Homo sapiens: one gene and its partners. The protein of the gene in region 4 purifies or fractionates together with the protein of the main gene of each other region. This does not show direct contact. Each region holds a gene or a part of one and is shown on either strand. Other genes may lie near its edges. The genes, in order: APAF1, ZNHIT6, C5orf34, RAD51B and TBC1D2B.

Region 1 (6,374 bases), on a different chromosome or scaffold from region 4:
TCCCATGTTCAAGCGATTCTTATGCCTCAGCCACCTGGGTAGCTGGGATTACAGGCATGCGCCACCACGCCCAGCAAATTTTTGTATTTTTAGTAGAGACGGGGTTTCACCATGTTGGCCAGGCTGGTCTCAAACTCCTGACCTCAAATGATCTGTCCACCTCGGCCTCCCAGAGTGCTGGGATTACAGGCACGAGCCACCACACCCAGCTAAAAGTTAACAACTTAATATTCTTTAATTTATGCCAATCACCACCCAAAGAAAACATTTCCATAGGAACCACAATTTTAATCAAATTTAGATCTCTTATATTATCTGTACTTTTAAAAGAAAAGGTTTTGCAATACAATTAAATGTCAAAAATCCAATGTTCCTGTATTTGAGAATGGAAGTGAACTCCAGAGATTAAAATTTATCTTTGGGAAAGCACCTATTCTTGAATTAGTGGACATACAAAGGCAGACTCCAGAGAATAAAGAACTAAATATGAATAATAAGACTGTAATAGGACTACTTGAACAAAACTCAGGAAACACAAGTTAGAAGACAAAAAAAAAAACTGATTAGTTTGACTACATCAGAGTTCTCGTCTACTGAGAACACCCAGGAAAAAAATTAATCAGATGGCAAATTAAAATAAGGTATTTAAAAGTCTAAAACCAGCTGAGCACAGTGGCTCACGCCTGTAATACCAGCACTTTGGGAGGCGAGGCAGGGGGATCACCTGAGGTCGGGAGTTCGAGACCAGCCTGACCAACATGGAGAAACCCCGTCTCTACTAAAAATACAAAATTAGCCAGGCGTGGTGGTGGGTGCCTGTAATCCCAGCTACTCAGAAGGCTGAGGCAGGACAATCGCTTGAACCTGGGAAGCAGAGATTGTGGTGAGCCAAGATCGCGCCATGGCACTCCAGCCTGGGCAACAAGAGCGAAACTCCGTCTCAAAAAAAATAAAATAAAATAAAATAAAAGTCTAAAACCAACAAAGTTTAATGTCTAGAATATATAAGAAACTCCTAAAAAGCAAAAAGAAAAAAAAATTGGAAACCCCAATGGAAAATAGACAAATAATATAAACAAAATCCATAAAAAAAGAAACCCAAAAGGCTAACAACAAGCTTATGAAGAAATGTTCAAACTTGAGTTACCAGAGAAATGCAAAGTAAAAGACACAACTTTATAGAAGTTTGCCTGGCAAAAATTACAAAGCTGGATCATACCAACCGTCACTGCACAAGTAGAATTATCGGAGTCCCCATACTCATCTGGGGGAAATGTACAGACTGGAGGGGAATCAAATTTGGTATTTGTATATCCTATCATTTAGTAATTTTGGCTGGACATGGTGACTTTCATCTGTAACCCCAGCACTTTGGGAGGCCAAGGCGGGAGCATCACTTGAGCCCAGGAGTTTGAGACCAGCCTGGACAAGATAGCAAAAACCTGTCTCTACAAAAAAATGTTTAAAAACACACCAAGCATGGTGGCTTACACCTGCAATTCCAGCACTTTGGGAGGCCAAGGTGGGTGAATTGCTTGAGCTCAGGAGTTCGAGACCAACCTCGGTAACATGACAAAACCCCAACTCTACAAAAAATACAAAAATTAGCTGGGTGTGTCAGCATGCACCTGTGGTCCCAGCTACTCCGGAGGCTGAGGTGGGAAGATCACTTGAGCCCAGAAGGCAGAGGTTGCAGGGAGCCAAGATTGTGCCACTGCACTCCAGCCTGGGTGACAAAGCAAGACCCTGTTTCATAAATAAATAATTAGCCAGGCATGGTGGCGTGTGCACCCAGCTCCTCAGGAGGCTAAGGTGGGAGGATCACTTGAGCCTAAAAGTTTGAGGCTGCAGTGAGCTATGATATGGCCACTGCACTCAGCCTGGGCAACAGGGTGACACTCTGTCTCTTTAAAAAAAAACAAAAATAAATAAATAATTACTAATTTTGCTCCTAGCTACAAATACCCAAGAAATTCTTACTCACATAGAAGTTCAACCCAGCTTTGCTGCAGCAGCAGAGAGTTGGATACAATCTACATATCCATTTACTTAGGGTAATGAGCAGTAAAATGGGTTGGTGGCAATCAGGTGTAACAAATAACATGTATACATAGCAACAAGGATAAATCTTAAAAACATTGTGTCATGGGAGATAAAAAACAGAATAATACCATAACATCTATGCAAATTTAAAATACCTGCATACCAACAACATACATATTTTACAAGAGTACACACTTTACACAGACATTTACAAAGAACATACATTAAATACATTAGGATTGTCCATGGAGAGGGGAAAGGAAATAAGAATAGGAAATTTTGAAATGGAAATAAATAAATACAGTGAAAAGCTCAGCCTAGTACAGATCTACTATAATAAGCCGTGAACTAAGGAATATGAATAACTCAGTCCTCTGAACTTGAGATCCCACAAAAGTACGAGGAATATGAATTAAGCTCACATGTACAGTTGCCAGTATCTCTAGGATTTTCTCAAAACAAAGTAGTTAAAACCTGTTCCAAGATAACAATTTATACAATATGACTCCTGAATATTTAATTCCATAGATTGTTAGTCAATTTTAATCCCTAGAATTGAAAATTCATCACAATAATGTAGAGCAATTTAAATGGGGAGAGGGAGTGTTCTTTTAAACCTATAAATTGGAATATTATAAATACACAAAGAAAGTTCATAATATTGAAAGGAAAACTCATTCCTTCACACTAAAGGAACTTAAGCTAAATTTATCCTGAAATATCCTTAGTGATCAACTTTGCAGTAGGGGCTTAAAAAAATCCTTGGCTCTGAGACTTGAAAGGAGCTAAGTCTCAGGAAACTTCTCTGTAATGATAGAGGGGAAAAACCAAGGGTTAGGAATCAGGCATACTTCTGACAAGAGTATAGTCTATACCACTTACAAAGGCTATGAAATTAAACTGAGGCCATGTGTACACATAGATATACCCTAGCCTCCATATTTCTAAGTCTCTTAGAGGCTTACTACTTATTCCAATCATTCTGTCTAAACTGTCTTAACCGTAGATCATGTTATACATACATATCAAAAAAAAAAAAACAAAAAACTTTTTTTTGAGATGGAGTCTTGCTCTTGTTGACCAGGCTGGAGTGCAGTGGTGCGATCTCAGCTCACTGCAACCTCCGCCTCCTAGGTTCAAGTGATTCTCCTGCCTCAGCCTCCCGAGTAGCTGGGATTACAGGTGCTCACCACCACACCCAGCTGATTTTTTTTGTATTTTTGGTAGAGACGGGATTTCACCATGTTGCCCAGGCTGGTCTTGAACTCCTGACCTCAGGTGATCCACGCCTCAGCTGGGATTACAAGCATGAGCCACCGTGCCTGGCCTACTAAAAAAAAAATTATTAACTACTAGAAGTTGGGAACTGTCTTTGAATTCCCCTAGAAGTGTCATACAGAGAGAACACACTGATGAATGAGAACACACTGATGAATGGGGGCAGCCTAGAACTGATGGAGCTATACAACTATTCCTGATGAATACCCTGAGAACCTACCAGGATCGCTAAGGTCAGTGGTATACCTGCCAACATTTCTTAAACCCTCTTCTACCCAGTATGCCCTTCCCCACCCCAGTAACCACCCACTACCTTTCCCACCTTCCCTAGTCTCCCATCCCTACCTTCACTGCCTAGCTAACTTTTATTCTTTCTCCAAACTCCTGCTAAGATGTCATCTCATTCAGGAAGCTTGTCCTATCCATCCCCTCCCTTCAGAGAGTTAACATATCCTTCCTTTGTTCTAACTCTGTACCTTATACTTGTTTCTACCATTCAATTTATCACGTATTGATATATCATAATATTTTTACATGTCTATCTACCTTACTAGACTATGAAATGGACTAAGACACTTACCTTCTAAAAGGGAATGATCTCTAACAGCTTCTGCAGCTAATACAGACTTCCCACAGCCTGCCATTCCATGTATGGTGACCCATCCTGGTTCACCTTTCAATTTGGAGAGCTTCTGCTGAATTGCATTCACCAGCTTCTTCCTTGTGACAAAAACAACTGGCCTCTGTGGTACTCCACCTTCACACAGGACTGTCCTTACTAAAATCCAAAACAAAACAAGCATGAATGAATAGAACTTTGGAATAATTACTGAAGTAATACCATAAAAAACAAAGAGCAAAGCTGAGGCTTAGCCTGAAAATTTCCAAGAGAAGTTAAGAAAATGTGGCTAGCATATTAACTTCAATTTTCTGATTTCTCAGACAACAGAGAGCAAAGACAAACATATATCCTTCAAGATGACTAAAGAAAATGGAAGTTTCTATCTATATCTGCTTTACTCACCCAATTATTTCCTGACTTTTCATTCCCTCTCATATTGAAGACTGGGAAGGCAAGTGTAAAAGGAAGAACATTTATGGAATACCTTTCAAGAACATATATTTCTAAAGATTCTTATTTTTTCCTATAAACTCTATAAACACATAGAACTGGAAAATAAACAAGGGCCTATAAATTGTCTTATTGTCTCTAAAAATTAGGGTAGACATATTATTATCTCAGCAGTACAGTTCACTGGGCAAGAAGAAAAGTTGAGAGTTAATGTGGATGCAAATAAAAAATATTTAAATTGAAAACATCACTACAATTTTTTTAACATGCAGTTTTCAGTGAACTGGTCACACTCTCTTCAAAAGATTACATCTACAATAAGACAAACCCAAAGCAATTTTGATAGCAAAGTGATAGAAGGTATAATGGATACAAACCATACGAAGTTATTCCACTAACTGAATCTTTACCACTGGAAGAAGAGACAACAGGAATGCCATCATGGAGAAGGGCAGCAAGATCTTTATATCCTTCATGTAGTAGAGCATTGTAGAATGATACGTAGGAATCATTATCTTTTTTAAGTATCATTTTAATCAGCATAGCTGCTCTTTGCTGTTGAGTGGGCTAAAAAAAATTAAGTAGTTTAGTATACAACAATGAATATGTATGCAACATAAAGTAGTGGAGACCAGTACAAGTTCTGAAATTCTAAAAATTTTTAAGGAAGTGTGGACTGCTTCAGAGAGCTTTACCTCATTTCTTACTTTTTCCTCTTCTGATATTGTTAAAAATCCATCACTAATCATGTGATCCATGATGTAGGATGTCTTGATGTCCTTTTCCAGAGCTTCTCTATGTTGAAGCAAACAATTTCGAGCTTTTGCATCCATCTTCCCTCAGATCTTTCTCTCTCTGAGCTGTCAACCATGAGCTACAGCCAAAACACCAAAATATTTGTCAGGCCAATAAAAATATGAAAAGATACATAATCTCACTAATAAACAAGAAACGTAAAAAGAACAAAACTGATTTTTTTTCCTTGGCAAAAATTTTTAAATGGACAAAACCCAGTGCTTGGAAAGGTATGAGAAAATGGCCATTCTTATGCACTAATTGGGGAAACTAGAAAATGAATGCAATTTTTCTGGAAAGCAGTAAGATATGGAATTGTTTAAAATAAGCTTTCTCTCTAACCCAGAAATCCCATTTCTAAGGATTTACTTCAAGGAGACATTCAAATACATATGTAAAAATATCCACAAGGAGAATTAATGAGTTTCCAATCAGGTGTGGTAGCTCAAGCCTATAATCCCAGCACATTGGGAGGCTAGAGTAAAAAATAAAAAGAAAAAAGAATTAATGGAGGATGTTTCAGTGATGAACGCAACCTAAATGTCCATCATTCTGAATATAGATTTTAAAAATTAGGGTATGTATATAAAATGGAATATTATGCAGCCATTCAAAATTATGACACATATCTCCATGTATTGACATGGAAAGATGTTCATAATACTGTTGCTGAAAAAAAAAAAAAAAAAAAACAGAAACATGATCCCACATACAACACATAACGTGGGGGCCGGGCGCAGTGGCTCATGCCTGTAATCCCAGCACTTTGGGAGGCCGAGGCGGGTGGATCACGAGGTCAGGAATTCAAGACCAGCCTGGCCAAGATGGTGAAACCCTGTCTCTACTAAAAATACAAAATTAGCCAGATGCAGTGGCAGGTGCCTGTAATCCCAGCTGCTCGGGAGGCTGAAGCAAGAGAACTGCTTGAACCAGGGCGGCAGAGGTTGCAGTGAGCCGAGACCACTCTACTGTACTCCAGCCTGGGCGACAGACTGAGACTCTGTCTCAAAAAAAAAAACAAGTGTTGGTATCATATGAATATATATAGACGTTTAGAAGTTTATTCATCGAAATGTTTGAGTTACTTCTGAGTAGCAAAATTTGGGATTTCTCCCCCACCTTGTCTTATTTTTTTTTTTTTTTTAGTACAGACGGGGTTTCACCATGTTGACCAGGCTGGTCTTGA
Region 2 (6,374 bases), on a different chromosome or scaffold from region 4:
CTGTTTTAAACTTATCTATAAAGCTGTATAAACAAAATTAAGACACTGTTTTAAAACAGTAACTTTCCTCAACCATTTATACATATTCATATATACTATTGGCTACATACCCCTAGATGTAAAATAAGTCTTTTCCTTGTATGCAACTCCAAATAACAAAGTTCTTCACTAAAATCCCTTTGACAACTACAAAGAGAGGATATTTATGTATAATATAGGAATATGCTAAATATACTACTTAAAGAGCAACTTTAAAATTTTCCTAAATCAAGGAATGAAATAGTTCACAAACATTAAAATGTTTTTTTTTTTTTTTTTTAATTTTTTTGTTGTTGTTGTTGAGACAGAGTCTTGCTCTGTCGCCCAGGCTGGAGTGCAGTGGCATGATCTTGGCTCACTGCAACCTCCGCCTCCTGCATTTAAGCTATTCTCATGCCTCAGCTTCCCAAGTAGCTGTGATTACAGGGGTGCGCCACTTCCCCCAGCTAATTTTTGTATTTTTAGTAGAGACGGGGTTTCACCATGTTGGCCAAGCTGGTCTCTAACTCCTGGCCAAAGGCAATCCATCCGCCTCGACCTCCCAAAGTGCTGGGATTATAGGTGTGAGCCGCTGCATCTGGCCAACATTAAAATGTTTAAATGACACTTGAAAATGTTTATAGGCTGGATGCGGTGGCTCACACTTGTAATTCCGACATTTTGGGAGGCAGAGAGGGGAGGATTGCTTGAGGCCAGGAGTTTGAGACCTGCCTGGGCAACATAGTGAGGCCTTGCCTCTACAAAACTAAACAAGATTAGCTGGGCGTGATGGCCTGAGCCTTTAGTCCCACCTACTTGGAGGCTGAGGTAGGAGGATCACCTGAGCCCAGGAGGTTGAAGCTGCAGTGAGCGGAGGTCCGCACCACTGCACTCCAGCGTGGGCAACAGAGCAAGATCCTGCCCCCACTCCCCTCCAAAAATAAAGAAAAAGAAAAGAACAAGTTTTAATATGAAACAGTAACACAAAAACTTTATGCAAATTAATTCCAATGAGTACACATATATACTTCTAAAATAATGTATTTTCTGAGTGATACACTATAATGTTAATAGTAGTAATCTTTGCATGGTAGAATTTTGGGTCATTTTTCACTTCCTTAACAACCACCCAGCTGAAGAAATAGGAAACTTTCAGCCGTCTAATTCTCCTCGGATCCCTCTCCTCAATACTTGCTTTGCTGCTAAAGAAACCATCATCAGGATTTCTATGTTAATAATTTCCCTTAGAGTTAGTTCTATCACCTTTGTAGGTATTCCCAAAAGTACACTATTTAGTTTTCTGGCTTTTTTCCCCCATATTTACAATCATGTTCTCTACATTCTTCCTTAACTTGCTTTTCTTATATTATTTCTGAGATTCATCCATGTTGATGTGCATAGCTGTAGTTCATTTTTAGTGATGTTTAGCATTTCATTGTATAAATACACCACAATTTAGTTATCCATTCTACTACTGACATTAAGTTAACAGTTTATTTTAAATACACAGCCTTCAAATTAAAACAAATCAGTGATTGAAAGATAGCAGTGATACCTTTTTTCTATGTACTCAGCTTGACTTTGAGGAAACTGGAGCTTCACATGCCAACAAAACTGTTGTTTTCTAAGAGAGAAAATAATCATGTGAGAATCAAGGTAGATAATAAAAGTCTGGATGCAAATTGAACTTTCTAAATTTTCACTTTAAGATAATTCCAAAATTATTCTTAGACTTTAACATATATTTTCTATTAAGAGCTAATTTCTCTTGCAAGGGTTATTAAGAAAGAAAAAAAAGGGAAGCAGTTCTAAATTCCAAGGACTTCACATTTCTGAATCAGAAAGCAATTTCTCATAGTTCAGGGGCTTTTGGGAGCAGTGTGCTACTATTTGAAGTTTACAAATAAATTTCCTCATGACTAAATACAATGAGCTGATGTCTTTGCTTGACTAGTCTGGAAATTAGGTGAATGAAGTATTGTCCGGTTGAGTCCAGCTGGCTGGAGATACACTTCTGAGGCATGAGTACGTGCATTCAGTAGCAAAACAGGAGACAACAAGCTGGTTGCTAAGCAGAATGCACTTTGAGCTACAGTCTTTTTGCTTTCAGGTCTAAACTTTGGTTTGACATAGCATCAACAGCAATAACTCACTAAATGTCTGATTTTAGAAAAATGACTATATTTAATATATCTAAATTTAGAGACATTGACATGATTCCTTCTTTAAAAATTCTAATGCTCAAAATATTGAATCCAATACAGAAATTTAAATGTCTTCACTACATGATGATTTTACACAATGTTTTCCTTACTTAGAAGAAATTTCTAACAATCCATTAGAGCAAGTTAATGACTACCGATATCTCCTTAAAATCTATCCCATAGCAGTAGGACCCCAAAATCTAAAATAATTTTCTTTTAATACAATCTATCTTTCACCAAACATCTATATGATTTAGTAGAATTTCTGTCAGAAGACAAAGAACATAATTTTATTGAGAACAAAGTTGAAAAGTACCCTTTACTAATCTAAAGGACAGATGTCTAAAATCTCAGAGGAAAAAACATTTAAAAATTTGAATGCAAAAGCAACAGTTACTAGTTTTAAATAAATAATTCTTCCAAAATAAAACATTTTGCAATATTCATTATCTGTGAAATAGGAATACCATAATAGCATTATCACAAGGCTGACTTTTTTTTTTTAATAAGAAATAAACAGATTTTGTTCATCTTTTTTTTTTTTTTTGAGACGGAGTTTCGCTCTGTTGCCCAGGCTAGAGTGCAGTGGCATGATCTCGGTTCACTGCAAGCTCCGCCTCCCGGATTCACACCATTCTCCTGCCTCTCTCCTGAATAGCTGGGACTACAGGTGCTCGCCACCACGCCCGGCTAATTTTTTTTTTTTTTTTTTGGTATTTTTAGTAGACACAGGGTTTCACTACGTTCGCCAGGATGGTCTCGATCTCCTGACCTCGTGATCCACCTGGCTCGGCCTCCCAAAGTGCTGGGATTACAGGCATGAGCCACCGCACCCGGCCTCATTTTGTTCATCTTAATGCATAATATAGTTTCTTCCTAAATGTATGTTTTTTCAGGTTAACTTAGGGAAAAAAAGGATTACCAACTTGCCATCTTATGGAATTGTAAACCATACTCAATCACCCCAATTCTTGCTTGAGTAATTTCAAAAACCATTCGCCTTTTAACATTTAATACACCCTGAATACATTCAGAAAGCACTTAACATTCCAAACACAGAGAGAAAAGCCCTCGGAAATCATTTTATTTGTTGTAGTTAACTAGCTCTACTTATAACAAAGTCATTCATTGCTATACATTGCCAAATTATTGATAAAAATATTTCTATATTTGGCCTCAGCTCACACATGAACAAATCTGAAAAGTACACTAACTTTTAAAATGTGATCTTCCAATATTTCAAAAACAAAGAAAAACAGAATAATGTAAAGAACACTCAATGCACCCATATTCAGATTTAACTCATTTACAAATTGCCGTATTTTTGAGGTACTTTTATTTCTTCTAAGAAATAAAGGGCTATTGATAACAGTAGATGATTCTTTATATGTACTTTAACCCAAGGTGGGCAAACAGAAGTTGAAGGGTGTTGTATAAAGAACTGCTGGGGATGGGCGCAGTGGCTAAAGCCTGTATAATCCCAGCAATTTGGGAGGCCAAGGTGGGCGCATCGTTTGAGCCCAGGAGTTTGAGATCAGCCTAGGCAACATGATGATACCCCATCTCTACAAAAAATACAAAAATGAGCCAGGCATGGTGGCGTATGCCTATAGTCCCAGCTACTCTGGAGGTTGAAGTGGGAGAATCACCTGAGCCCAGGAGATTAAGGCTGCAGTGAACTGCGACTGCGTCACTGCACTTCACCTGGGTGACACAATGAGACCCTGTTTCAAAAAAAAGAAAAAATTGCTAGGCCAGGCAAGGTGGCTCACGCCTCTAATCCCAGCACTTTGGGAGGCCAAGGTGGGCAGATCATGAGGTCAGGAGATCGAGACCATCCTGGCTCACATGGTGAAACCCCGTCTCTACTAAAAACACAAAAAATTAGTCAGGTGTGGTGGCATGTGCCTGTAGTCCCAGCTACTCGGGAGGCCGAGGCAGGAGAATCACATTGCTTGAACCCGGGAGGCGGAGCTTGCAGTGAGCTGAGATTGAGCCACTGCATTCCAGCCTGGGCGACAGAGCAAGATTCCGTCACAGAAAAAAAAAAAAAAAATTGCTGAAATGGGTGAGTTAATTTTCTCTAAAATGGTTTCCAATTCTTCAGTATTGCTGAAATTACTGTAAGTCCTGACATGTGTTCTTCTTAAGACTGAAAGAATTAAGCTTGTTTCTCATTTTTTTATAATTATATATACAAATATATGTCCCACTTAAAAAAATATACATACATCAAAATCCTAGCAACATTACTTGGATTACTTTCTAAAGCTAGATTCCAAGAAGTACAATCACTAAGACAGAGCAGGGTTTCTCAATCTCAGCAGTGCTGATATTTTGGACTAGATAATTCTTTGCAAAGGACTTGGTCCTTTGCACTGCAGGACGTTTAGCAGCATCCTAGGACTCCACCCTCTAGATGAGTGTTCCACTAGGAACACTCATACACCCAGTTGTGGCCACCAAAAATGCTCCCAGAAATTGCAAATGTCCCCTGGAAGCAGAATCATCACTGTTTGAGAACCACAAGGATAAAGGTTTGAACATTTACAATTACTCCTAATGCATTAGAGCTACTGTTCCCTAAATTCAACAAAATGCCTTCAACTACAATAATGTCACTATACCCTTGGCATATCAACGTTCTCAAAAATGGTATTACTATACCTAGTATATTCTAGGTAACTTAGGGACTCCAAGATACCATGTTTAGAGTTGGGTGATAAGACTGGTGGAGTAATTGTGGCAACTTAATCCTTATGTTCCCTTCTGGACAATCTGACAAAGCAACAGAAACACTAACCTCTTCTGAGTCCTATGAAACCCAAGTAACTATTCATGCATAGCAAAGCTGTTTCCCTCTCCTCCTCTAAATATCAATACACACATGCATTCTCAATGAGGGCAGCATGGCCCCAAAGAGGGCAAAAACTGGTTCTCTGAAGGGCCAACAAAATCTTGCTATTTTAATGCTTGTGGCCCTACAAAGGGCTACTGTATGCAACAGATATACAGTGTATCTATGGTATCAAAATATCACGGCAGAAAGCTCCTTGGGAGGCAATAATAAAAAAAAAGTTGAAAAATACTTAGATGGCACTTGTATTAAATGAGGAAAATAAATATTTTATACTCATTTTCAGTGAGTTAATACAGAGCACTTATTTACCAACACTTGCTTACTAGAAACTGTTAAGGATCAGTCTCTCCGTGGCCCATTTGTTTACAAAAATAGAAAGAAAAGGGATCATTCTCTCCCACAGTTTCAAGAAAGTATGTGGATGAACACACACATTTAAGGAAAGAGGTTCTATAACCATAATCTAAATTATTCTTTTGACTTCATAACTTCAAATTGCAAATTTTCGTATGGGGAATACTACCACAATCCCAAGGAAAAAGATGCAAATCAAAAGTCATTAGGTCCTTTTAAATGGCACTGCTCTAATGTCACAATAAGATGTTCAAATTCATTAATAACCAAAGAAATGTATATATAAATAAAATATTTTTCCTTTTCAGGTTTGTAGAAATGTTTTTTAAATTAGAAATACTAAGGAAGTGTGGCAAAAGTGTGGCAACTTCATTGCTGACAGGAATATAAATTGGTGCAAGCTACTGGTAGTTCAATTTCATAAAAGCTATAAATAAAAATTTGTAATTGAAAAACTGTATATTTTTGCCTCAATAGTTTTATTCCTGGAAATGTATCCCAAGGAAATAATTGGTCAAGTAATGATATATATATAAAATGTCCACTGCACCACTTTATATAATAGAAAAAAATTAGAAACAACCTAAATGTACATCATCAGAAAGTTGATTAAATAAATCATGGTACATCTACATAATGAATTTTAAGTAGTCATAAAAGATGAGGCAGAACTTTATGTACTGATGTAGAAAAATGTGCATGTTGAATGATAGCCTTTATATTTAAAACACAGGTTTATACATATATTGGCAAGTATGAAGGCCATACCCCAAACTTTTAGCTATGATTATTTCTTGACATTATAAAAGGACTTGACTTAATTTTTACCTACGAATATGTCTGTATTATTAAATAAATCTTCCACATAATGATTTGTGGGCTTTTTTTTCCTTTTTTGAGACAAGGTCTCACTCTGTCGCCTGGGCTGGAGTGCAGTG
Region 3 (5,344 bases), on a different chromosome or scaffold from region 4:
ACTGAAAAATACTTGGAGTAAAGGGACCAAATAGCAAGTGAACAAATGCACAATTCTGCATATTAAAAAAAAAGAGGCTGGGTGCAGTGGCTCACACCTGTAATTCCAGCATTTTGGGAAACGGAGGCAGGAGGATAGCTTGAAGCCAGGAGTTCAAGACCAGCCTGGGCAAGATAGGGAGATTCCTGTCTCTACAAAAAAAATTTTTAAAAATTAGCCAGGCATGGTGGTACATGTCTGTGGTTCCAGCTACTCAGAAGGCTGAGGTGGGAAGATCCCTTGAGCCCACAAGTTCAAGGCTGCAGTGAGCTATGATTGCACCACTGCATTGCAGCCTGGGTGACAAAGCAAGACCGTATCTCAAACAGTAAAAACAAACAAAATGAAAAAACCTGAAGATTAATAGTGAATGCTCCACAAGATAAAAACAGCAACAACTTTATAATGTTACAAATTTTTTTTCTTGTTAATCTGAAATAAGAATTAAATGTGAAACGTTCAAAACTTCGAAATATTTATTATTAAGATATAAATACATATTTTAAAAATGTACAAGTTAAAAATACCTTCAAAGTTAAATGTCAGTTCTTTCACAATCATTGTGCCGGGGTAATACGTACAATATCTTGGCTTACTAGTAATTTTATACCAGTCACTTGAAACAACATCCTTAAACTTTAATAATATGTTGTAATAATTCCATTTTTCACTTTTTAGAGTTTGATAGAAGACAGTCAATATCGTGAAGGATTTCAGAGGTTTTTTTCAATGCTATTGATACTCTATTTTCATTAACTTCTCCTAGCAAGGTTTCTGAAGATCCTGGTTTATAATGATCAAAAGACTGTTGTTCATTTTTCTTGTTAGAAATCTGGTTTAGGATACCACTATTTTCTAGTAGCACTAAGTTGCTTAGTTAAGGAGGTTTTCCCCACATTTTTCACTATATAAATATCTTTATATACAGAAAGCATAGGCTTCATATTAAAATATTTCTCAGCTGGAAGACCTCTTGGATTCATAATACAGTTGGAACTGCAAGGCTTATCAAGTCTGCTCCTTGTAGATGAAGAAACTAATTACAGTATAAGGGAGGGGGAAAGAGAATAGAGTGTGTATGTGTGTGTTTGGGTGGAGGTTTGGTGGTAAGGAGGAAATGAAAATTTCAGTAACATTTCTTTAAGTGAAGAAATGACACGGGAATTAAAGAGTAGGATGACAGGATTATAAGGAATCTGTGTAGTGTCTATTTTTAATTTAAAAAGATTTAGAGTGAAAAACCTGTTCGCTATAGAACTAACTTATTTGAATAAGATTAGAGAAAAACCACAAGAGAAAACAAATTTAGATGAATTGGGTGAGAATGTACAGAATGAAATATTTCATTTAAAAAAAGAGGTCTTAAACAGTTATAATTTTATTATATAATTATGTAAGTGAAAAAGTCTCCAAAGGAGACCTTAACCCTAATTAACTGTTCTTTGCCCAATTTAAACTCAAAGAAAAGTATAAATGTTAACATGCTATACCTTCTATGGACAAGATCCATCTTAAATTACAATCTTAGGTATTTGCTGACTCAATAAAGGTTAGCAATATATTAAGTATAGATTAATATTCACAAAGTACTGAAGTCATGAATTAAGCCTAGAATGAAAGAGAGTAATTATGTAGGACAGTGCATTCTGTTTAAAGGATACAGTTAAACTTCTGTATCTTTTCAAGTTCAGAAGCAACAGACCTGTCCAAGGAAAAAGAAAAAATTCATTCAGTTGTCTGATTCTTTTGTATTCATGATATTTCAAATAAGCATACCTGACTTTTTTTTTCATTAGAATTTTAAACGGAAGAACGCAGAAGAATTCTCTTTATGTTACCTTTATTTAGCAACAAATCAACTTGACTCAACTGATACTTACTGAGTGCCTTTAAAGGTAAGTGAATAAAAGTCTACCCCTTGTAAATCCACTTCAAGGAATTTGTAATCAAATATTGATGTTTGAGGATAATGGGCCTTCCTGTTACTTCTTAGTACTAACCTAGCTTACACTCTACTTTCCTCCCTAAAGTTTACGCAAACTTTACAAACCTATTAAAATCCCATTCCTTCTGTGAAAGAACTGCTCTCTCCTTCCTTGAATTCCTATAGCATATTAATTAATCACATACTTATTTGTAATATCTTCTCTTGAACTATTTAACTTCCTGCTCTTCCTACCTAGATTGTTTCTCTCAGAAGAAAGGATTTTTTACTTTTCTGTACTTGTGCATATATTAAGACCTCATTTATATGGAACTCTTTGGGAATGGATGGTATGGGAGATCCAAGTTTTTAAATAGTTGAATTACGTGTCAAAACAACTATTTTTTATTAAATTCTTTCTGGAATAGACTACCTACTTATTTCATTGTTTTTTTAAGCACAGAGGGTTAACATGATGAACATTAGCTCTTATACCATGTTCTATAGAAAGATAGTGGGACAACTGGTATGGAGTAGAGGGCTAATATATACGTCTCCAGCAGAACCCCTAAGTGTGTGTTCTTTATCCTTTTTCTTATCAAGTTAGAATGAAATATGAGCAATGGCATACAACTACAAACTGTAACTTGACTAGCTCTCTGCAAAATTAATGAAGACATTAGTCTAAAATATTCAAGTCACCAGAAAAATCTTCACAGTTCGTAGTAGGTTGTGTGACTTGTCTGCTTTATTGGCTTTACTACAACAGATCACATGCACCTCCCTGTCAGCTTGTACTCTTTCCCTTGTACTCCAGCCTATGGATGGAGAATGAAAAGAAATATTTCATAATTTTAAACACCTGTGGCAAAGAACTTGGATACAACTTACCCCAACAACCAGCTGATTGTTCATTATTGCAAAATATCTTTTTTTTTTTAAACCCAACGCATTTTTCTGGATGTAAGAAACAATACAACCTTTATTGTTATTGCTCTCATAATGAACGAACTTTTTATGAAACGTACTATTTGTTGACTAAAAAGTTGAATTAATAAGCTAATAATGGAGGGTGTGGCGGAAAAAAAATACTAGAATACAACTTAGGTAGCTTTTTATTGTACAATCTTGTTTCTTCCTTCAACCTACCCTCTTTGATAAGAAAAACCGAAGTGGAGATACCTAAGGCTTTATAGGGGGAATGGAGCTACTCCTCAATTTCTTTATCTTGCCTCTGCTGTTCCTAGTTGCTTTCACCTTTAGCTACTATCACCAATCTCTACTTGCAGTTTTTAGTGTGTATTGACAGCCTCTTCTCAGCTTTCAAATAAAAAGGCTGATGATATTTTACAAACTGCCAGCTAAGCAATGGTGAAGTGATGGTTTTATAGACAAGTACAATTTTCCTTCCATCACAATTGTTTTTTGCTAGTTACTTTAGCAACTTTTCTGCTTCCAAACAGGCTACAGCTAAAGGATGAGGGATCTGCAAAGCTGGATCCTTAAGCTACCTGAGATATTCAAATAACGCTTACTGATATGATTTGATTTGTTCTAAGAAAGGGCTTAGGAAAAGGTAACAAAAATTGGCTTAATGTTTACATTTTGTTTCACTACACTATGTTAGGTCACCTCACAAAACTTACTTAAAAAGCTTCCCAAATTGTTCCTGGTATCCCTGTCTTCCCATATATTCAGGTTAGACTCTCAGTGACACTAATCTTCTAATGACCTTTCTTCCTATCATTTTTCCATTTAGGACTTTCTAATTCCATCAGGTCTGAACTCCTATTTATTATAAGATCCATTCCTAGCCCTCAAAACTCATACTATATACTAATAGATAGCATATGTTCCATAAAAACTATCTTCTATCTCCACAGGCTAAAATATCCTTTTTACTTCTGCCCTTATTTCCTCCCTAAAATGTCTTATATTTTCACAGAAAGTTCCCTTGAAGCCCAGTTCTAGTACCCTGCACACTGAAAAGCACACAGGAGGGACTAAAATACTTGCTTTATTTGATCTGCCAGTTAATTTGGGAGAAGTAACTAATATGACAGAAATTATTTAAAAATCAATGTTTTCTGAAAGCTTATGTTATTAAACCTTTTATTTCCTTCAACATTACTAAAAATTTAAGAATCCCCTTTAAATTTTTCCATAAAGTTTTCAGGATGAATTTGTCACATAAAAAGAGCCACTCATTTTCATGTTAAGTTTTCAATGCAAGGTTTTCTTACCTTTAGGTAAAATAGAATATGATGAAATGTAATAAATTAGATGTCTGATTAGAAATTATTTTCAAGCTTAAGCTATCAAAAATACTTTAGGAGTTAAACATATTCAAAACTAAGAAAGTTTTTTTGGGGAAAAAAGTCTCAGTTTACCATTTGACATTTTAATTTTTTTTAAAGTATTAGCTCTTCTAAACAGATTTAAGTTTAAAAGAAAAATACCAATTTTCTTGGAGAACAGAAGATGACGAATGAGTGGGCATCTCTCTGGGACTAGTCTGGGTCAGTCTCCTGCACCATGATGTTACTGTTGTCACATATCTAAAGTGAATACATTAAAAGAAATACTTGAAAAATGAACTTGAATACATTATAAAATTATAAACAAATGTAAAAATAAGACAATTTGGGAAAAAAGGATAAAGAAAAAATGTTAAAGTGAAGCATTTACTGGGCAATTCTCAAAATATTTTTCACTGGTCATAGAAAAGCCAAATTTTTTCCATTATTCATCAAGAATAAAATGATTTACTTATATTTGTGATTAATACAAGTGACATTTAAGAATCAAAATAAAGGCGATATTTGGATTTCATTTAAAGTTCAATTTTAAATGTTCTAATTCTTTTAGTTTTTCAAAGTAAAATGCGTTTAAGTTTTATCAAAAAATATTCACACAAAATAAGACTGACTGAGCATTTGCTTACTAAAATTTAAACCAAAAAACACCTGCTAATGCATATACACATATGCTTGTATGCATATGTGTAATTATATGTAACTTACTACATATCTAAAACAAGTATCAAGTTTAATAAAATGAATGATCTGAAATGATTGGCTGAATCAATAGAAATGTTTGCTAAAGAAACTATCTTTTTTGAGGCAAATCATTAATAGCAATGAATGAGCACTTAGACTGAAACACAATAAAACCCAACAGAAAAATACATTCAAGAGGTAACAAAAAGCTATTATTTTGTGAATATTCTCAAGTGAAATCACTAAAATGTGAAGACTATCACAAGATTTACTGTAATAAATTAGATAAACCAAAAGAAAAAAAATTCATAAAAAGCTGAAGACTCTTCCCCATTTTAAGATAATCATTGCGTAATTTTATCCACTTTATAGAAATATACAG
Region 4 (7,171 bases):
AAATGAAATAGCAGTTGGAAATGCACCCAAGGAGGCTTGATATTTACAATTAGCCTATGGAAAAGCACCATCATTTATCTTTTTTTTGTAAGCCTACATTTTCATATTTCAAGTTTAAGAGGTATTAAGGTATAAAGTTAACTTGTGCATAAAACTTATCAATAAAAATGTTAAATAAAATTTACCTGACAGGTAAGGATCTGATGTCTACTCAGACGGTCACACAGCTCTTGTGATAAACCCACTCGTTTTAGTTTCTTGCTACCCATGCCTCCAGATCCAGCAAAGAAAAGAAGAACCATGAAAAAAACAACAGAATATAACATAAGTGATAGTGAATAGGCTATCCAAAACAAAATTAAAAATTCCTCAAGTTTCTCCATATGCAAAATGAAACATATTGTGTTAAAAATATTACTGATAAAGGAATGCTATAGAACCTTTTTAAATGTTTTAAATAGGAGGGACAATTGTTCGTCAAACAGGCACATAGAAAATCTACAAGGCAACCTCAAATATAATTTCACACAATTAATTGATATTTACTACATGAATATAGTACCACTTCACATTTGTAGAGCATCTTAAAATGTTCAATGCATGTATAAATTTTATTTGGAAATGTAATTAACTTTCAAGGCATATTTCCAAACAGAACTACTAGAAAGTCTATTGCACTGTAACAATTTACATTGCACTGTAACGGCAATAGGTATATTTATGGAGCACCTACCACATACCAGGCACTGTTCCAAAACTTATCTAAATTATCACATTTAATCTTCTCAATAGCCCTAGAAGGAAAGTAGATTATTGGCCCCTTTTTTACATATGAGAAAACTAAAGCCTGGAAAAGTTAGCTAGTCCATTGTCACCAGAAAACATAAATAACTGATCCAGAATTTGAATCCAGGCAGTCTAATTCTGAAACCTATCCTCTTAACCATTACACTCTACTGCAAGTCCATAATCATATTTAACTCTTCCTTTTTCTAGGAGTCAGAGCACACCTTCTGAATCAAATGAGATTTTATCACTGCAGTATTAAAATGTTCTTTTTAAATATATATATAGAGAGAGAGAGAGAGAGCGAGACAGGTCTGGCTCTGTCACCCCAGCTGGAGTGCAGTGGCTCGATCTCAGCTCACTGCAACCTCCCCCTCCTGGGCTCAAGCAATCCTCCTACCTCAGCCTCCCAAGTAGCTGGGACCACAAGCGTGCACCACCATGTCTGGCTAATTTTTGTATTTTTTGTAGAGACAGGGTCGACACCATGCCTGCCCAATTTTTGTATTTTTTGTAGAGACAGGGTTTTGCCATGTTGCCCAAGCTGGTCTCGAACTCCTGGGCTCAAGTGATCCTCTCGCCTTGACCTCCTAAAGTGCTGGGATTACAGGCATGAGCGATCAGACCTGGCCCAAAATGTTCTTTATTACACTAGCTGCTTATATTCTCACATGCAGTTAAATTTCACTATTGTACCTTGCTAGGGGTAAATGAGGCTCATGAAAGATTTATCTTCACAGAGCTAAAAAAGAATTACTGTGAGTCTCTTAATGCATACAAAGGAGAAGCTGTATATCTCATTGAGATGGTAAAGAAGTATCCTCTGGAACGAACTGAAACAGGAACTCTTCATGGATCCAAGGAATAAAGCAATATAGTTATCAGAAAAGAAGTAACATTTTGGAATGAAAATATATGTATACTGAGAATGTATATATTTGTTTATTTCCAATACCATGGCCCAAATTTCTATTTAACACCTAAATTCTCTGAATCAGACTGAATCAATCTCTCTCTCTCACACACACACACACGCACACACAATATACATACATACACACCTCTCACAAACAAAAATACATCCTCCTCATTTCTCTCCATGGGAATTTGTTAGCAATGACTTGTTTCCCCCAGTAGAAAACCAAGTGATACCTGCTATAATATTGCCTAGTGTCTTTTCAGATCAGGTAGTTTCAAGTAATGACACCATTTAGACTGATAAATTCAATTTAAAAAAAAAAAGAAGGAGAAAGAAAAGAACCATAGGCCACACAAGGTAGCTCACGCCTACAATCCCAGCACTTTGGGAGGCTAAGGCAGGCAAATTGCTTGAGCCCAGGAGTTTGAGACCAGCCTGGGCAACATAGAGAGAACCTGTCTCCACAAAAAAATACAAAAATTAGCTGGGCATTGTGCCGCACACCTGTAGTAGTCCTAGCTACCCAGGAGGCTGAGATGAGAGGATCACCTGAGCCCAGGAGGTCGAGCCTGCAGTGAGCTGTGGTCATGCCACTGCACTCTAGCCTGGGGAACAGACTGAGACCCTATCAAAAACAAAAAACAAACAAACAAAAAACTATAAATTCTAAACTACAAGGACTTTAACAACAACCAATTCTGCCATTTCTGCCTTAATAGGGCCACTCCCATCACTTGCCTGGACTATTGCATATTGTTTCTGGCCACTCCATTCATTTGTTCCTTAATTTACTCCTTCCACAGGCATTTAAATACACACCCTGCTGAGGTCTGGGGTACAAGAATCATTTAAGCATATTCCCTCCCCTTTGAATACTCATAGTTGAGATGAAAAGAGAGGTACACACAAATAACTACAGCCATGCAGTAAGCATTACAATTGCTATTTAAAAGTGCTATGGAAGCAGACAGGAAGAAGCCCCAAATTCGCCTGCAAAAGTCAGATCAGTGTCACAATCCTGCCTTGAGTAGCTTCCTAAAAAGTCACGATTATCCTTTAACACTTCCCATGGGACTGGTAGACCACAGGATAAATTCCAAACTTCTTAGGGTCGCAGAGAAAAACATCAAAAATTGGTCCCTCACTTCCTTCTCACTCATACATCACATTGCAACGTTCAGTTCCTATCCTTCCTGGCAGTTACTTCACCTCTCAGTGTCTTAATTTCCTTAAAACCCTTGTTTTACAGTCATATGAATTTACTACTTCATATGACTGTAGTGGAGGTTAAAGGACTCGGGGAGTGCGTGGCACATAGTACTTAAGGTCAGCAATCATCATTTAATGACTCTCACATGATCTGCCCTCCAGCCACATGGTATGTGTATTGGTAGGTCACGCATCCTGTCTCCCTGACTTCCCTCCACAAAACCTTCCCCAGAGTCAAGTCTTTTCCTCTCCAATGTTCTCATCAACTTCGCACATATCTATTCGATAATCTTATCAAAATACTATTATGGCTTGCAAGTTTGTTTGCCCCCACCGGAGCACGTAAATTCCTGCGGTGTATGTGTGCGCGAAAGCACGTATGTGTATTGCACATGAGGGGAGACGGTCAACCCTGGAGAATGAACCCTGTCCTCCTTACCACCAAGAAAAGAAAATTCTTCATGTTAGATGTTCAACAACTGTTTAGGAACAATATTAGCTAATATTTATTGAGCCCTTATTACGTGCCACACTGTTCCAAAGGCTTCGGATATTTTACCTCACTTTACAGATAAGGATACTGAGGTAACTAGTTGAGAAACTTGGGCAAAGTTAAACAGCTGACAATTGGTGTGAAGCTCGCATTCGAATCCAGGGACCGGACTCCAGATTCCACGCTCTCCAACACCACCTGAAGTGGGAGAGTCCCTCAACTTCCCCTAATGACAGGCTGCCCGAAGCGGGAAGGGGCTGGGGAGGAAGATGGGCAGCAACAGGCGGAAACATCACCCAGAATCCCCTAAAAAGAGCTTTTTCCAACAATGAGCAGCTTCCAAGCATTCCCCACCAAAAGAAGGCCCGAAGCTCCCCCAATTCACAGCGGGGTTCTTAGTGACGATCCCGAGTCTTAAGGGGGCGTGACCAGCACCCAAGAGAAAATCTCCGCTCCCCCAATATCGAAACCCACGAGCCTAGGGAAGGAGCAGGAAATAATGAGCGAACCCCACTTCCCCACAACGGCACCCCACATGAAACTTTCCAGTACCGGGTCTGCAGCATCCAACTTTCAAGTTTCCCCACCCTTTACACAGTTTCCCCGCGGAAAACGCCGCAAAGCAACAACCGAAGCACTGATTGAGTCGTCATTCTGGCTACTGTATCCAATCAGAGGCCGGCAGAGGCCCAGGTTGGCTCCGCGGCTTGCTGGGAATTGTAGTTAATACTATGATCAGCCTAACAGATCGAATCTGAAGCAGTTTCTCAATATAGTGATTATCAAAATCTGTTGCAGGACCATCACCAAAGAGAATGTGAAACAAGGGAACACCCTGTTTGGAAATTTTTCTTTTTTCTTTCTTTTTTTTTTTTTTTGAGACGGGGTCTCGCTCTGTCGCCCAGGCTGGAGTGCAGTGGCGCGATCTCGGCTCACTGCAAGCTCCGCCTCCTGGGTTCACGCCATTCTCCTGCCTCAACCTCCCTAGTAGCTGGGACTACAGGCTCCCACCACCACGCCCGGCTAATTTTTTTGTATTTTTAGTAGAGACGGGGTTTCACCGTGTTAGCCAGGATGGTCTCGATTTCCTGACCTCGTGATCCGCCCGCTTCGGCCTCCCAAAGCGCTGGGATTACAGGCGTGATCCACCGCTCTCGGCCCTGGAAATCTTTTTTTTCGTGTATCATCACTTTTCACAATGGCTTAAAGGGGCCAGACGCAGTGGCTCACGCCCGTAATTTCAGCACTTTGGGAGACCGAGGCGGGAGGATCACTTGAGCCTGGGAGTTCGAGACTAGCCTTGGCAACATAGTGAGACACCCTCCCCCACCCCTCCGCCTCTACAAAAAAATACAAAAAATAGGCTGGGCGCGGTGGCTCATGCCTGTAATCCCAGCACTTTTGAAACTGCCCGATGGGTTCACCTTACCAGCTGCCTAGACAGAACCGATTTATCAGGACAGGGGAATTGCAATGCAGAAAGAGTAATTCACGCAGAGCCAGCTGTGCGGAAGACTGAAGTTTTATTGTTACTTAAATCAGTTGTCCCGAGCATTTGCGGATCGGAGTTTTTACCAATAATTTGGCTGGTAGGGGCTTAGGAAGTGGGGAGTGCTGATTGGTCAGGTTGGAGATGGAATCATAAGGGGTCGAAGTGAGGTTTTCTTAATGTCTTCTGTTCCTGGGTGTGATGGCAAAACTGGTTGCGCCAAATTACTGGTCTGAGTGGTGTCAGCTGATCCATGGAGTGCAGGGTCTACAAAATATCTCAAGCACTGATCTTAGGGCTTGCAATAGTGATGTCACCCCCGGGAGCAATTTGGGGAGGTTCAGACTCTTGGAGCCAGAGGCTGCATGACCTCTAAACTGTAATTTCTAAACTTGTAGCTAATTTGTTAGTCCTGCAAAGGCAGACTGGTCCCCAGGCAAGAAGTGGGTCTTTTCGGAAAGGGCTGTTATCAATTTTGTTTCAGAGTCAAACCATGAACTGAATTCCTCCCCAAAGTTAGTTCAGCCTACGCCCAGGAATGAACAAGGACAGCTTAACGGTTAGAAGCAAGATAGAGTCGGTTAGGTCTGATTTCTTTCACTGTCATAATTTCCTCAGTTATAATTTTGCAAAGGCGGTTTCACTTCGGAATGCTGAGGCAGGCAGATCACTTGAGCTCAGGATTTCGAAACCAGCCTGGCCAACATGGCGAAACCCCGCCTCTACTAAACATACAAAAATTAGCCAGACATGGTGGCAGGCACCTGTGATCCCAGCTACTTGGGAGGCTGAGGTGAGAGGAGCCAGACATTGCCTCAAAAAAAAAAAAAACCTTAATGGGCCAGAAAGCCATGTTACTTTTCTCAGGAATCGAGGACAATCCACCAATCACAGAAGAGTTTTTGGAAGAAAACGTTTTGTTTGTTTTAACTTGCTCTTTTCACCACCCTTTGGTGATTAAATAGTTTGGGAAATGCTGAATGAAATTACTAAACCTGAAACACACATAGTGAGGAAAGCTGAGAGTCTGTGATTAAAGCACACCAGGGAAACCAAACAAAAGGCTTGGTGTAAGGCAGCTGTGGTGAGCAAACCTAGTAAGCCGTTACTTCAAGAGTTGGTTTCAGGCTGGGAACGGTGGCTCACGCCCGTAATCCCAGAACTTTGGGAGGCCGAGGTGGGCGGATTGCCTGAGGTCAGGAGTTCGAGACCAGCCTGGCCAACATGGTGAACCCCTGTCTCTATTAAAAATACAAAAATTAGCCGGGTGTGGTGGCGCGCGCCTGTAAATCCCAGCTACTCAGTGAGGCTGAGGCAGAAGAATCGCTTATCCCAGCTACACAGTGAGGCTGAGGCAGGAGAATCGCTTAAACCCGGGAGACGGAGGTTGCAGCGAGCCGAGATCGCGCCATTGCACTCCAGCCTGGGAGACAGAGCGAGACTCTGTCTCAAAACAAAAGACTTGGTTTCAGATTATTGTGTTTGCGAAAAAGCCTTTGCTCATTCTTTGCTCTCTGATCTCTTATGCATACTTCTGTCTTATAATTTAGCCCACCGTCTCCTAATTTTTGGCCTGCATCTCCCTTGAGAAGAAGGACCTCCATTTACTCAACTTAGAGAATAGGGCCTAAGCCCGGTGTAGTGGCGCGCGCCTCTAGTCCCAGCTACTACAGGAAGGCTGAGGCTTAAGGATTACTTGATCCAGGAAGTTCGAGGCTGCCATGAGCCGAGATCACACCACCGCACTCCAGCGACAGAGAGACTCTGTCTCTAAAAAAATAAAATAAAGCCTAGCACACCGTTCAATTAACAGTTGTAGGGTAAATGTGCAAATAAATGAATGGAGTGAAGCAGAAGAATATGGAAATTCAGACCGCAGAGTTCCGGAACAAAAGAGCCCAGTAGATAGAATAATAATGGAGGAGAACCCAGTTCTCCTAGCTCCGGGTATCCCCCGCGCCTGGCAAAACACCATCACTGGTTGGCGTTCAATAAATGTTGACTTCACATGTTAAGGAGATAAGAGAGTGGAAGAAAAAAAAAAATCCAGGGTCACAGTTCTTCCTGCCACCTGCTCGGCCGAATGCAGAACTGAAAGTATTGAGCGCCGGAGCTGTCACAATTGAGGGAGATGGTCCGCAGCCAGGTAGCTGATTTCCTCTTTCCGAGCTTTCTAGCTTTCCCTACTCCCGGAGAGGTGGCGTCACGTGACTCAAACAAATATGGCACTTAATTTTCATCTTCCCTGCCTTGAGCCAATAGGAGTGGGGCTTTC
Region 5 (6,374 bases), on a different chromosome or scaffold from region 4:
TTAGATAGATAGATACATACATACATATATACAAACATACATAGATGGAGGCCCCAGAAGGAACTTGTCTGTCCCCTTCTGCTATGAGGACACCACTAGAAGGCACCACCTCTAAAGCAGAGTGAGCCCTCACCAGACACCAAATCTGCTGGTGCCTTCATCTTGGGCTTCCCAGCCTCCAGAACTATGAGAAATAAATTTCTGTTGTTTATAAGCTACCCTGTCTACGGTATTTTTTCACAGCAGCACAAATGGCCTAAAACAATCTATCTGGGAGCAGAAGAAAGAAAACAAAAACCTATTTGTCAAACCCTGCTTAAAACTCTTTACTGACTCTAGCTCTTAAGATGAAGACCAAAATCCTGCCCTGGCCCAAGGCCTGCCTCTTCCAAAGGCTATGTCCCCTTCACTCCTAGTTGCCACCAGGCACTCCTTGAGTCCCACATGCAACCAGCACCCCCACCTAAGGGCCTCTGCTTATGCCATTTCCTCTCCCTACAACACTTGACTTCCTCCTCTCCACCCCCACCCCCGCTCCAGTCAACACCAACTCATCCTTTGAGTCTCAGCTCAAATGTCGCTTCTTCAGGAAAGTCTTTCCTAGCCCTCCACCAACCATAAACCAGATCAAGATCCTGAACTATACATGCATTGCATATCTTTCCTTTCAAACTTCCTAGCACTGGTTGGTGTTTGTTATATTTTATTAACGTCTGTCCCCCCCACCTACTGAAAGCTCCAGGAGGACAGGGACTGTTTGTCTTGTCCAGTCATATCCCCAGTGCCTAAGCACACACAGTGAGTGAATGAGTGGGAAGCTCCTGAGGCCTTCCTAGAACACAAGTCAGTGAACTACAGCCTGCGGTCATTTCCAGTCTCTGCCTATTTCTGTACAATCTACAAGGCAAGGGCAGTTTTAACATTTTTATTTTGCTATTTTATTTTTTTGAAACAGGGTCTCCCTCTGTCACCCAGGCTGGAGTACAGTGGAGCAAACACAGCTCACTGCAATGTCCACCTCCTGGGATCAAGCAGTCCTCCTGCCTCAGCCTCCCAAGTAGCTGGGACTAAAGACATGTGCCATCATGCCTGGCTAGTTTGTTTTTTGTTTTGAGACAGAGTTTCGCTCTTGTCGCCCAGGCTGGAGTGCAATGGCGCCACCTCAGCTTGCTGCAACCTCTGTTTCCTGGGTTCAAGCAATTCTCCTGCCTCAGCCTCCCAAGCAGCTGGGATTACAGGCATCCGCCACCACACCCAGCTAATTTTGTATTTTTAGTAGAGACAGGGTCTCACCATGCTGGTCAGGCTGGTCTCAAACTCCTGACCTCAAGTGATCCACCCACCTCGGCTTCCCAAAGTGCTGGGATTACAGGCGTGAGCCACCACATCCAGCCACACCTGGCTAGTTTTTTTTAATTTTTGTAGGGATAGGGTCTCACTTTGTTGCCTAGGCTGGTCTCGAACTATTGGTATCAAGTGATCCTCCCATTTCGGCCTCCCAAAGTGCTGGGATTACAGGAGTGAGCCACTGTGCCCAGCTAACATTTTTAAATGGTTGAAAAAAATCAAAAGAATATTTTGCGAAATGTGAAAATTATATGAAATCCAAATTTCAGAGTCCATAACTAAAAGTTAAAACACAGCTATACTCATTCTGTGGTTGTTTCTGTACTACAACAGCATAGTGACAGATATGGCAGAGTGCGCAAAACCTAAAATAGTATGTGGCCCTTTACATAAAAAGTTTGCCTCTGCTATAACAGTGTCCTTGGAGTCCTGACCATGGGCATGAAATATATGAGACCCGAAAATATGGAACTGACTGTAAGCTCTCTCCTCTGGGGAAGGGTGAGTCATAACCCCCTTTTGGATTCCTGATGTCTGTTAAATTCAGTGGGCATTCACTGAATGGCTGCCACCTCCATGACATGAGGCAAGAATGGCATGTAATACACCTGTATATTTGGGAGTTCTGGCTGATCACTTCTAAAGGGTCAGGGCTCACACCAAAACCAGTGCTTACTGGGTGACCATTTTCTATTCATTCATGCAACAAATGTCTACCTGGGCACCTTACCTTAGTCGGTTCAGGCTGTTATAACAAAAACACCACAGACTAAGTGGCTTAAACAACAGAAATTTACTCAGTTCTGAAGGCTGGAATGTCCAAAATCAAGGTGCTGGTCAATTTGGTTCCTGGCGGGGGCCCTCTTCCTGGTTTGCAAAGGAATGCCTTTTTGCTGTATCCTCATAGGTGGAAGGGGAGATCATCTCTCCAGGGTCTCTTTTTATAAAGGCACTAATCCCATTCGTGAAGGCTCCACCCTCATGAGTTAATTACCTCCCAAAGGCCCCACCTCTAAATATCATCACACTGGGAGCTGGCACTTCAACATACGAATTTTTCAGGAACACAAACACTAGTTTATAGCATGTCTCCTTTGTGCCAGATACTGTTGCAGGAGCTGAGGATACACACAGTCCTTAGGGAGCTTACCCTCTGGTTAGCAGGAAATAGGATGGAGACTCCCCTGCAATGAGGACTGTGTGAGGCAGTGGGAGAGGGAGACGGAATGCCACTGTGATATCACAAGCACAATACTGGACTTGCCTTGAAGGAACTTACTAATTGGAAAGCCATGAAAAGTTAAATTCCCATAACTTAAAGAGTTAAATAATGCTTCAAGACTGAGCAGATGCCCTAGGGCAGAACAGCTTAGAAGAACCAAACAGCAAAGGAGGCTGGTTCACCACATCTATTTTGCACTGAAAACAATATGATTACCCAAGCCGACAAATGTTTGTCATTAAGAGAAATTTCAACACCAGGGAATGTGCATTCCCACAAAAGTGGTTAAGAATAGGGGTACACAGCTATTCAGTTACGTGTGGCTCAGAAACCAGTACACATGTCTATTTAGCACCAAGCACCTACGGAGGGAGGAATTCATTTGCTGACGGTCTGATGACGCTCTCTTGCTCCAAAGTCTGCAGAGATCTGGAAGATCAAGGCTGTTTAAGCTTCACCCTCGGTCAGTCACATGCTCTCCTTCCCCTAAGTGCCTCAGATTCCAGTAAAGCTCTGTGAGAAGCCTCCAGCACCCCTACACACAGAGAGAGACGCACACAGGAAGCATCAGCCTCTGCTAGACCCTTGCAGCAGTTTCCAGACATGTCCAGCAAAAGGTACTAGGCATCCTGGTAAAGAACTGGGCAGTAAAATGTTCCCTTGTGATACCCACTATCCAAAAAGGACAGATATTAAATGCAATAGAAGGAAAGACTACTACTACGCCTTATCCGATCCCCAACAAAGTCAAAAAAAAGCAGACTTGTCAGAACAGACAATACAATTAGATACTACACATTTTAGACATTCACTATTCCTGGAGCCTCTACTTTCAGAGAGGGTCTGAGTCTAGCTTCATGATGTTGGCAAAATCACATCCCCTCTCTAGCCTCTATTACCTCATAAGGCACCAGATCAAATCCCTAAGTTTGGGAATAGAGGAGTTTCCCAAGAAATTCCTATATCAGCTTTCATTAAGACTTACATAGAAAAACATTTTGAAAAAGCCCAACAAAACCACAGCTTCTCCAGAGAGAGCTGAAAGACACTTTTAAATAAGAAAAACATATGATAATAGAATAAGAAAAGTGCTGATTTTTCTTTACTTTTTAACCCTCTGTGATAAGAAATGGTATTTGTAAAATTATATACCACTAGCTGAAGTCTGAGCAGGGCTAAATCCTAACTTAAAATCCTTAGAAATCAGGGTCTCCTCTATGGCTGGGCAGCCCTAAAGTGAAACATTAAGGCTTAAGGGAATCAGTTCTTGCATTTGAAAGACGAAAAGGAAGATAAATTGGTAATTTCCATACTTACACCATAAAGATTTTACTCCTACAGCTCAAAAGAAATAACTGTACAATGAAATTTAATTTTCTTAAAACACACGCCTGGCTGGGTGCGGTGGCTCATATCTGTAACCCCAGCACTTTGAGAGGCAGAGGCAGGTGGATCACGAGGTCAGGAGTTCGAGACCAGCCTGGCCAATATGGTGAAACCCCGTCTCTACTAAAAATACAAAAATTAGCTGGGAGCGGTGGCACGCGCCTATAGTCCCTCAGCTCGGAAGGCTGAGGCAGGAGAATTGCTTGAACCCGGGAGCCAGAGGTTGCAGTTAGCAGAGACTGTGCCACTGCACTCCAGCCTGGGCGACACAGCAAGACTCTGTTTCAAAAAAAAAAAGGGAGCAGGGTTTTAGAGTCGGGGTGTTTTTTGCTTGTTTGTTTGTTTGTTTGTTTGTTTTTAAGGTGGAGTCTCACTCTGTCGCTCAGGCTGGAGTGCAGTGGTGTGATCTCGGCTCACTGCAACCTCCGCCTCCCGGGTTCATGCAATTCTCCTGCCTCAGCCTCGCGAGCAGCTGGGACTACAGCGTGCGCCACCATGCCCAGCCAATTTTTGTATTTTTAGTAGAGATGGGGTTTCACCATATTGGCCAGGCTGGTCTCGAACTCCTGACCTCAAGTGATCCACTCGCCTCGGCCTCCCAAAGTGCTGGGATTACAGGCATGAGCCACCACGCCCGGCCTTCTCCTCCCTTCTTCCAGAAAGCCTTGCCTGATTTCCATTCCCATTGTTGTATACAGCCAACACTCGGTACTATCTTATTCTGTGACCAATTTAATTTTACATGTCAAAATATTCCTCCATTGTCAGTAACCCAAAGGAAAATGTATTTCCTTTCTTTAAAAAAAGAAATATTCTGAACCTACAAAAAGATGGATAGCATAATAGGACAAACACTGATATACCTATGACCCAGTCCAAGAAATAAAACACTGCAAAACAGGAGAAGCCCTGAGGCACCCATTCCCAATCACATCCTCCCTCTTCCCATCACAGGCAACCACTACCTGGAAACCAGAGCTCATCAGCCCCATAAAGCTCTTCCCCTCGCGAAAGAGCATACATCCTTATGATCTGTAGTACTGTTTCACATGATCTTCCTAACCTTTCTATAAGTGGTATCATTCTGAACACAATCAGTGTGTAACTTACTTCTTGTTCAATTTTATTGTTTGTGAGAGTAATCCACGTTGACACCTATAGCTCTAGTACCTTTGTTTACTACTGCATAATATTCCACTATATGAATACACTACATATTTGGCCAAAGACACTGCTTGATGTTTCATATGCCATGTAGTGCCTACTATTTTCCATACCACTATGGAAAATGCGCCAGCCATTTTCCATAACATTCTCCAGAATCCTCACAGCCACCTAATGAGGAAGGTATGATTCCCACTAGACCAAAGAGGAAACTGGAGCAGGGAACTGGTGTAATTTGTCCAATATGTGTGAGCAGCAGACTCCTGCTTCAAGTTCAAGTCCATCGAAGTTTAAAGCCACACTTCTGACAATGCGCCTTGTAACCCTGCTTATGTAGATTCTTATTTATTATTTTTTTTTTAATTTTTTTTGAGATGGAGTCTCACTCTGTCACCCAGGCTGAGTGCAGTGGCGCGATCTCTGCTCACTGCAAGCTCTTCCTCCCGGGTTCACGCCATTCTCCTGCCTCAGCCTCCCGAATAACTGGGACTACAGGCACCCGCCACCATGCCTGGCTAATTTTTTGTATATTTAATAGACATGGGGTGTCACCGTGTTAGCCAGGATGGTCTCGAGCTCCTGACCTCGTGATCCACCCGTCTCGGCCTCCCAAAGTGCTGGGATTACAGGAGATTCAGATTATTTTAATGAAAAAAACTGATAGAGTTCTACAGTCATCTGGGAAAAATGTGAAACACGATGCTCTATTTTCTTTAACAAACATCCCACAGGAAATTCGTCCGACACAGGGACAGCCCGTATGTACACTGAGGAAGAGCCTCTGCCTTTGGCAAAGGTCTCCCACTAGGGTCATTACCAAGTTTATACAGGCACTCTCTAAGTAAGCCTGTGTAGGACTGCAACCCGAGTTGGTTTTCTTTGGGGAAACAGGCTGTCTGCACCCACTTACAGACAGGACAGGGGAGCCCAAGAGAACATGGGAATCAGATCCTGCTTGAACTGGCAAAAGCTGAGTCAGCAAAGCTCTAAGAACATCTCCAGGGAGCAGCTCCAGCTGTTAGCAGCTCTGGGGGTCTGAGGAACAGTCCTCAGCTCACAAGGCCAGGAGTTTGCCTAGTCTGCTCTCCGTGTGGCCAGCTTTGAGAGCACTTTCATACATCCCAGCCCAACCCTGTTGCTCTGGAGAAAGCCCAACCTGGAATACGGAAGAGGAGTGAGAGTGAGGGTGGAGACTCACAGAAACCAGGCAGGGAGCAAAGCCTGGAAAAAGGATACCCAGCTCCAGGCCTGGGCC

Evidence for each region.
Region 1: the proteins of RAD51B (region 4) and APAF1 purify together in Homo sapiens (affinity purification with mass spectrometry; one large-scale study listed by BioGRID and IntAct). This does not show direct contact.
Region 2: the proteins of RAD51B (region 4) and ZNHIT6 purify together in Homo sapiens (affinity purification with mass spectrometry; one large-scale study listed by BioGRID and IntAct). This does not show direct contact.
Region 3: the proteins of RAD51B (region 4) and C5orf34 purify together in Homo sapiens (affinity purification with mass spectrometry; one large-scale study listed by BioGRID and IntAct). This does not show direct contact.
Region 5: the proteins of RAD51B (region 4) and TBC1D2B purify together in Homo sapiens (affinity purification with mass spectrometry; one large-scale study listed by BioGRID and IntAct). This does not show direct contact.

What each region holds. Positions count from the first base shown.
Region 1 is NC_000012.12:98,647,212-98,653,585, reverse strand, and holds part of APAF1 (apoptotic protease-activating factor 1), read right to left. Parts: intron 5,268-6,374; 5' UTR 5,227-5,267; coding exon 5,089-5,226; intron 4,961-5,088; coding exon 4,771-4,960; intron 4,100-4,770; coding exon 3,902-4,099; intron 1-3,901. UniProt on the Homo sapiens protein: Oligomeric Apaf-1 mediates the cytochrome c-dependent autocatalytic activation of pro-caspase-9 (Apaf-3), leading to the activation of caspase-3 and apoptosis. This activation requires ATP. Isoform 6 is less effective in inducing apoptosis.
Region 2 is NC_000001.11:85,679,263-85,685,636, forward strand, and holds part of ZNHIT6 (box C/D snoRNA protein 1), read right to left. Parts: intron 1,643-6,374; coding exon 1,574-1,642; intron 187-1,573; exon of another isoform or gene 111-186; intron 1-110. UniProt on the Homo sapiens protein: Required for box C/D snoRNAs accumulation involved in snoRNA processing, snoRNA transport to the nucleolus and ribosome biogenesis.
Region 3 is NC_000005.10:43,486,209-43,491,552, forward strand, and holds the end of C5orf34 (uncharacterized protein C5orf34), read right to left. Parts: intron 4,522-5,344; coding exon 4,423-4,521; intron 2,782-4,422; coding exon of another isoform or gene 2,751-2,781; exon of another isoform or gene 1,742-2,750; coding exon 1,701-1,741; exon of another isoform or gene 904-1,700; coding exon 707-903; 3' UTR 501-706; downstream 1-500.
Region 4 is NC_000014.9:67,816,642-67,823,812, reverse strand, and holds the start of RAD51B (DNA repair protein RAD51 homolog 2), read right to left. Parts: upstream 4,035-7,171; 5' UTR 3,960-4,034; intron 273-3,959; exon of another isoform or gene 272-272; 5' UTR 270-271; coding exon 186-269; intron 1-185. UniProt on the Homo sapiens protein: Involved in the homologous recombination repair (HRR) pathway of double-stranded DNA breaks arising during DNA replication or induced by DNA-damaging agents. May promote the assembly of presynaptic RAD51 nucleoprotein filaments.
Region 5 is NC_000015.10:78,069,728-78,076,101, forward strand, and holds part of TBC1D2B (TBC1 domain family member 2B), read right to left. Parts: intron 1-6,374. UniProt on the Homo sapiens protein: GTPase-activating protein that plays a role in the early steps of endocytosis.